Linked DNA regions of Homo sapiens. The protein of the gene in region 1 purifies or fractionates together with the protein of each later gene. This does not show direct contact. Each region holds a gene or a part of one and is shown on either strand. Other genes may lie near its edges.

Region 1 (3,828 bases):
GCAAATATAGATATGTCTCTTTCACTTTCTTCATTGAGGTTTTTGTTTAAATGTCATCTTGTATAAAAGCCTCTCCCTTATCACCACATATAAAAATGAGTCACTGCCACCCTCCATCCCAAAACTTTCTAATATTTTTACCTTCCCATATGTTTTTATTCATAGCACTTATCATTATTGGTATCATTCATTGTTTACTTCCTGATTATTCTTCCCAAGAGAGTATAAATTGTTAGAGATTAGGAACTTTGATTTATTCACTGCTGTTATCTCCCGTGCCTGAAATTATATTCAGCACATAGTTGAAAGGTATTCAAAAAATTTGTTAAAATAATACATTAATGACATATATATATGTGTGTATGCTTTCCTTACTGATGTAACCTACTTTCTATAGTTCACCATTCAAGTGTTTTTCATTATTATTATGTTCTGCACAGTTTTGTCATTAGTCACAGTCTAGTGTTTAATCCTTATATTTTCTCTCTCTTCTTTAGGCATGGAATGCAACTTGCAAAAACTGGCTGGCAGCAGAGGCTGCCCTGGAAAAGTACTACCTTTCCATTTTTTATGGGATTGAGTTCGTTGTGGGAGTCCTTGGAAATACCATTGTTGTTTACGGCTACATCTTCTCTCTGAAGAACTGGAACAGCAGTAATATTTATCTCTTTAACCTCTCTGTCTCTGACTTAGCTTTTCTGTGCACCCTCCCCATGCTGATAAGGAGTTATGCCAATGGAAACTGGATATATGGAGACGTGCTCTGCATAAGCAACCGATATGTGCTTCATGCCAACCTCTATACCAGCATTCTCTTTCTCACTTTTATCAGCATAGATCGATACTTGATAATTAAGTATCCTTTCCGAGAACACCTTCTGCAAAAGAAAGAGTTTGCTATTTTAATCTCCTTGGCCATTTGGGTTTTAGTAACCTTAGAGTTACTACCCATACTTCCCCTTATAAATCCTGTTATAACTGACAATGGCACCACCTGTAATGATTTTGCAAGTTCTGGAGACCCCAACTACAACCTCATTTACAGCATGTGTCTAACACTGTTGGGGTTCCTTATTCCTCTTTTTGTGATGTGTTTCTTTTATTACAAGATTGCTCTCTTCCTAAAGCAGAGGAATAGGCAGGTTGCTACTGCTCTGCCCCTTGAAAAGCCTCTCAACTTGGTCATCATGGCAGTGGTAATCTTCTCTGTGCTTTTTACACCCTATCACGTCATGCGGAATGTGAGGATCGCTTCACGCCTGGGGAGTTGGAAGCAGTATCAGTGCACTCAGGTCGTCATCAACTCCTTTTACATTGTGACACGGCCTTTGGCCTTTCTGAACAGTGTCATCAACCCTGTCTTCTATTTTCTTTTGGGAGATCACTTCAGGGACATGCTGATGAATCAACTGAGACACAACTTCAAATCCCTTACATCCTTTAGCAGATGGGCTCATGAACTCCTACTTTCATTCAGAGAAAAGTGAGGGGCTTGTGAAACAGATTGTTCTACAGATGAATCTGTAAGCCAGTTACAGTTTGCCTTAACTCATAGACATCAATCAGAGAGTGTCACAGATTTAACCTTGATCTAAAGACAAGTTGTACCCAGAGTATGTGAAAAGAATGGGACGACAAGAATGTACTGGTTTCTTCCTCTAAGAATTGAAAGGAGTTGAACTGCCTTATGTTTGGGCATGTAACTCCAAAATACTAGGTAGTATAAGGCTTTCTCAATCAGTGCAAAAATGGAAGATATATAAAGCAACAAGTTGTCTGCATTTGATCACTGGTCAGATTGTAAAAAAAAAAAAAATTGTTTTGGCAACATTCTCTATGTTATTCTTATTCACATGATCCTAGAACTTTATGTGAGAACTGAATAGCAGAAGATATATTATTAAATAGTTTTTGGAAGTTGTGCTGTTAAGCAAATGTAAAGTCAACAGTAACAATGATTAAGAAAGGAATATAATGAGTTCAAAGATATCTATCTGATATATTTTTTATATTCATCATGAATCGGGGTAGTCTTGTAATTTATCTAACCTTTTTGTTGTATGGGTTTATAGTGGAAAGAATCTTAATTTAAATAAAAAGAACCTGAAGAGATAATTCAACAAAAGTAGAGAATATGTTTGAGCTTGTCAGAGAATTTAAGTATCAAAATACTAGAGAGATACACCAAGGATATTTGAATAAAAAAAAAATTTGTAGAACACAAAATGCCTATCAGGAAACCCAAAGCAAAACAGAACAAAAAGTGAATACATCGTTTTAAATGATGATTTTGCCATCTGGTATTTTATTATCATAATTTGACCACCAGTGCATGAAAATATATTAAAGTTCATTAGCCTTCTGCTCTTGATTTAATAGTGAACTTTAAAATATATTAATATCATAAACCAGCAAATAAGGAGAAATAAACTGATAATACTAGATTCATTGGGATAGTTTTCCCTTTTGGAGGGAAAGTCACAATTTTTCTCCATGATCCCCCATTTTTTGTAAACACTGGAATAATTTACAAGGATAACTTTATTGTAGCGAGAGCAAATCACATCTGGAGTGAGCCTTGTTTTCATGCAACATTACCATAAGACCATTGGAGTAAATGTTTCAAACAAAATGTACTTCATGAAATTATAGAACATAAAAATATTTATGTGCATATTAACCTGTATTATCCCAGGAGGGTTAATGAGGCCCCATTTCCTGCACAAAACAAATGTAGGGGAAAAAATGGGTGCTGCATTAGCTTTTTAAAGTCAAACAACTATCACATAATAATTCCTTGATATGCAACATAAAGTACCTATGGCCACATATCTAAGTTCCTTTCCTTGATGTCATTAGCTATAAGGAGTGAGTAATGTGAAGGACAAAATAAGCATTATGAATACAGAGACATAAAATTCCACTGTCCCTTCCTTTTCTGAAATACTCTGGGAGGTATTCTGATATTTTTAAATCCCCCAATTTTCCCAGTTGATATCTCTAGACTTCAAGCAACTGAAATATTATAAAAATGCATTAGTCACAAAAGATTTATTTTCTTACATCACACCAGGCTTTAAGATATTTTCTGCCATGCCTTGCCTTTAGTATCAATATTTTAAAAATTTCACTGTAATTTTATAACTGCCTAATAACAAACTGAAAACAGAACTTCTGAGTTTCCTTATCAGAAAGGGCCACAGAAAAGGCCTTAAGAAAGAAAGATTCACTTACTTCTGCAAACTTGGCAATCCGTAATTTAACTTTAATTTGTATTTTATGCATGAATTTTACTTGTAAAGACAAAATTAAATTTGCTTCCCCTACATCCCAACTCCAAGAAGTCACAGGAATAGACTCTTTCTAATAGTGCAGTGAAATATTTTTTCAAACCATAAACTCACATATATATATATATATATATATATATATATATATATATATGTACCTTGTAAACAAGAGGTTAAGAAATTTTATAGCACATTTTAAAATTATTTTCTTCCTCAAATCTATCATGTGGTAACTTAATCTTTAACAGACTTTAGGGCCCTAAACTAAAATTATAAGAGCTATTTCATTTGCTTGTTGTACTGGGTAATTGTAAGAATCACAAACAATAAATCATGAAAATCCTTTCTGGGTTTGTGGTTTCTAAAGGAAATAATATTGAGCTTTTGTATTTTGTCTTTTAATTGGCTCCCTGGTATCTTCAGAATGATGTCTAGATTCTTCAGTCTGGACCCACCTACTCTTCTCACATTATCTCCCATCACTGTTGTCACAAACCATACCCTATAGCTAAAGATTGCTACTTTAGTTTATTACATT
Region 2 (3,828 bases), on another chromosome or scaffold:
GAGAGCGGCAGGAGCACGCCTCCACGTGTGTCAGTGGGTGGTGGGGAGCGTGGTAGTGGTCCTAGTTCTGAATTCCACACCTCTTTGTCAAGCACCGGCTCTGTACCAGGAAAGCTAGGTACCCAAGTTCCAAACATGAGGACCACCTGGTCCCTCCTCTGGAGGGGCTCACAGTCTCATGGACAACTATGATGGATAATCCTGTAGCCACCTTTTCCTGCTTTTTGTTGTTTATCTCATTCCATCCTCACAACAATCCTGTGAGATAAGCAAAGATTAGTATTCATTTCTTATACCCATTTTATAGTTGAGGACACCGAGGCTGAGGTCAAGCAATTGCTGAAAGTCTTCTGGTGGGTTAAGTCAGCCCTGAAACACAGACTGCCCCCACTTCTGATTCATTGCTGTTTGCCCTGCCCTTGCTATTTCTAACAAGATGCCATGTGTGAATGGGAGTAGATGAGGAGTGGGCAGAGAGGAATACTTTGGAAGGGAGAGATGCAGTGATGGAGGTGGGCAAGGATGGGAGAAAGTGTTCGTTCAAAAGCTAAAGCTACGGAGAGATACTCTAACCATTGGGCAGGAAGGGAGCAAGTGAAGAATAAAACTACTTACATTTTGACCAAAGCCTCCCTCCACAAAGCGAAGTACCCAGCTAGGGTACGAGAGCATCAACATCACGTGCTTGCTGGACACTGTTGGCAATGGGTGGCCCTGGGGGCACTCTTCAACCGCTCTGACCTCAGTTCCCTTCTCTGTTAACTTGAGCTGATTCTCCTCATGGAATAGGGCAGGTATGGGTATAAGGAAATGCCAGGACAGCCCCTGGCACATGGCAAACACGCAATAGTGTTAGTTCCATGTACGCTTTCTCCTGATCACTCAGCTATGCTTCTCTTCCTCGGCTAAGGGAATCACCATTCTGCCAGCCTCTTCTCCCTCTCCCCTGTTCCCTAGGTGTCATGAGAAACCTCCTCTGTGGCCTTCTGGAACATTTGCAAAGCCTCCAGTCCCACTCTCCTCTTCAGCCCATTGTCAGTGCCCAAGACACATCATCTCACCTCTGCCCTCACTAAGGCACTTTCCTCTGAACTGTTTGTCCTCTTCTCTAATCAAGCCTCATAATCCTACTGTACTGGATCAGCTTTCTGAAGCACAAATCTGCTCATGATCAGGCATCTCTTTAAAAACTTAGGATGCTGTCCTATTGCCTACAGGACGCTAGATAAAGCCCAGTTTCCTTAGCATGGTGTGCAAAGCCCATCAATACCTGCATCATGCAATTCTTGGAAAAGACCTCCGACTGCATATGTGAATGCTTCTGTGCATACTCTTCCCTCTGCCTGTGCCGGTCTTTCCTCCTTCTTCTCTCTGGAAAACAATCTTTTTCAACCTGCAAGACCCAGCTCAAACGTTACCTCCTCTGGGCAGGCTTCCCAGATCTGCCATTTATCCTCTCTCCCCAGGGAGGGGCATTACCCTTTCTTATGTGTTCCTAACGCCTGTCTCTCACTTTTCCTATTGCAAGATAATTGGCTTTTTGTGTGTCTATTTATATGTCTATTAGATAATGCACTTTTTTTTGAATTTGTGGGCCTGACACACAATAAGTAATAAATGTTAATAAATGTTGACTGAATTGATGTATGTGATTGTGAACAAACTCTTGAGCCTAATGGGCTTTAGTCACTCATGGCTTCCTGGAAATTGGGATTCCTATCTCCCACCCCACCTGTCTGCTGTACTTAGTTGCTGTGAACCTTTGAAACTCAAAATGGGTAAATATTCTGGGAATCAAGGTGCTGAAGCCAGTCAAATCATGGGTACATTTTGGTTATTCATGTACTTATTCAATATTCAGTAATTATCGACTCTTACTATGGAGTGCTCATCTGAATAGCAGATAAATGGATTAATCACAATGCCCAATTATGAACCATGGGGGATAATGGACCCTCCTGAGCTACTGCTTGCTTTACTGATACTTGGTGAAAGTCTGATGCATGATGCATTATTTATGGCGATGACTCCCTGATTAGGGTTTTATCACCTCAAAGGAGAGCCCCCAGGAGTTGGGAAACAGTTTTAGCAAAGAGTCACTTTGGAAACTGATATATATATATATATTTTTTTTTTTTTTTTTTTTTTTTTTGAATGTTCTGTTGACTTGCTGGCCCAGGGAGAGGGAATAATTACAGGTTGGAAAAAATCCTACAATGTGACAATGAGATTAGGGGTTGCAGTGAGTTATGGGGATAACTGAGCTGACTTCTTGCATGGTGTATCTTGGTGGTTTTGGCTAATAGATCTTTCTCCTCAGGAAGTTACTTTCAGCTGAAGAATGTGGTCCCATTATTACAGGGGTTAGGGAATTGAGGAAGAGGAGGAACCAGGCATAGTTCTCTGAGGATGGTCTTCATCTATGTCTGTTTCTGCAGAGTGTGTACACTAACTAGTAGGCTATGGAGACAGACTTCCTGGTTTTCAATCCAGTTCTGGACCTAGTAGATGTGTTGCTACATTGAGCAAGTTGCTTAATGTCTCTGGGCCTTTTAAGATTGTTGTGAAGATGAAAAGGGTTAATTTATGCAAAGGAATTAGAACATTGCCTTATACATGGTGAGTTCTCAATAAGCGTTTATGATTATTATCCTGCTAGCTTTTAGGAGTCTTGCCAAAAAAGTGCAAACTGAAAGTATTCTCCCACTTTCTCATTTCTGTAGCTGAAATGATCCATAAAACCATAGTCCATGTGACTTTTTCCTCCCTCCGCAAACACTGATTTCAGTCCTTAAGTGAGCTCAGGAGAATTAAGAAGATACCCAATTTTTTTTTTTTTTTTTTTGCCTGGCTAATTTGGCTTTTCAGAGTCCTAAATTGGCTTTTGGCTGTCAAAGACAGTGAAACACAACACTCCTGTCTCCAATTCAGGAGTGGGTTTCATTTCCTCCTCTTTGCTAACTGCAATGTGAAGTGATTATCACATACCAGTGTGGAACATGCAAAAATCTGTAAAAACAGTCCTTACACCTTGGAGTCTACTCTGCCAGCAGGGGGAAAATGGGCAGCCTGAAAATATGTGAACAGCCAAGGTAACTGAAAGCAGCCTCTGTGTGTGAGAAGCAAGCAGGTGGTGCTGTTGTGAACTGGCTTAGTAACAAGATAGAGTGAGCACAGGCAAGAAGGGACCTCTGAAAGGTCATTCTGTCCATGCCTCTGTCCCTGAGAACCACCTAACCGAAGATGCATTGTTGGCCACTTGGTCTCTTGTTAAAAAGCTTCAGAGAAGGGAATTTCCCCAAACTCCTCGAGTGTCTCAGTAGTCGGAAGTTCTCCCTGAAGTCTGAGCTCAACCTCTTCGATTGCAATCTGAGTCACCTTCGTTTATGTTATTCTAAAAAGAGATGAAAACTGGCTGCTACCTTTTCATTTGGGGTTGTCTCACCATTTTTACTAGTTTTTGTTCCAATTGATTCCAATCCCTTTTTCTGATATTCTGGTATTAGACTTCTAATAGGAATAGCTAGGAGAGGAGTGTTTGAGATTTGCCTCTCCAGTATTATCCAGCCAAAATAGCCACTGGATATTTCACACATCAAATGTCTTTTCTTACTTCACTTGTTATAAGAATTCCCTCAAGCATCACAGTTTTTCCCATATTTGTAATGAGTGGCCCATAAGTAAAGATCTCTTTTTAAAGTGTAATTTTATATTGAGCAAACAGCTTGATGTGCGTATTTTCATAAAGTCATAGAATGTTAAAGTTGGGTGGAAACTCAAATCACTTAAGTCAGGAGATAGGAACTACTTGTCCAATATCACAGAGCT

What was found.
Region 2: the proteins of SUCNR1 (region 1) and PRMT8 purify together in Homo sapiens (affinity purification with mass spectrometry; one large-scale study listed by BioGRID and IntAct). This does not show direct contact.

What each region holds. Positions count from the first base shown.
Region 1 is NC_000003.12:151,880,062-151,883,889, forward strand, and holds part of SUCNR1 (succinate receptor 1), read left to right. Parts: intron 1-497; coding exon 498-1,487; 3' UTR 1,488-3,828. UniProt on the Homo sapiens protein: G protein-coupled receptor for succinate able to mediate signaling through Gq/GNAQ or Gi/GNAI second messengers depending on the cell type and the processes regulated.
Region 2 is NC_000012.12:3,494,089-3,497,916, forward strand, and holds part of PRMT8 (protein arginine N-methyltransferase 8), read left to right. Parts: intron 1-3,828. UniProt on the Homo sapiens protein: S-adenosyl-L-methionine-dependent and membrane-associated arginine methyltransferase that can both catalyze the formation of omega-N monomethylarginine (MMA) and asymmetrical dimethylarginine (aDMA) in proteins such as NIFK, myelin basic protein, histone H4, H2A and H2A/H2B dimer.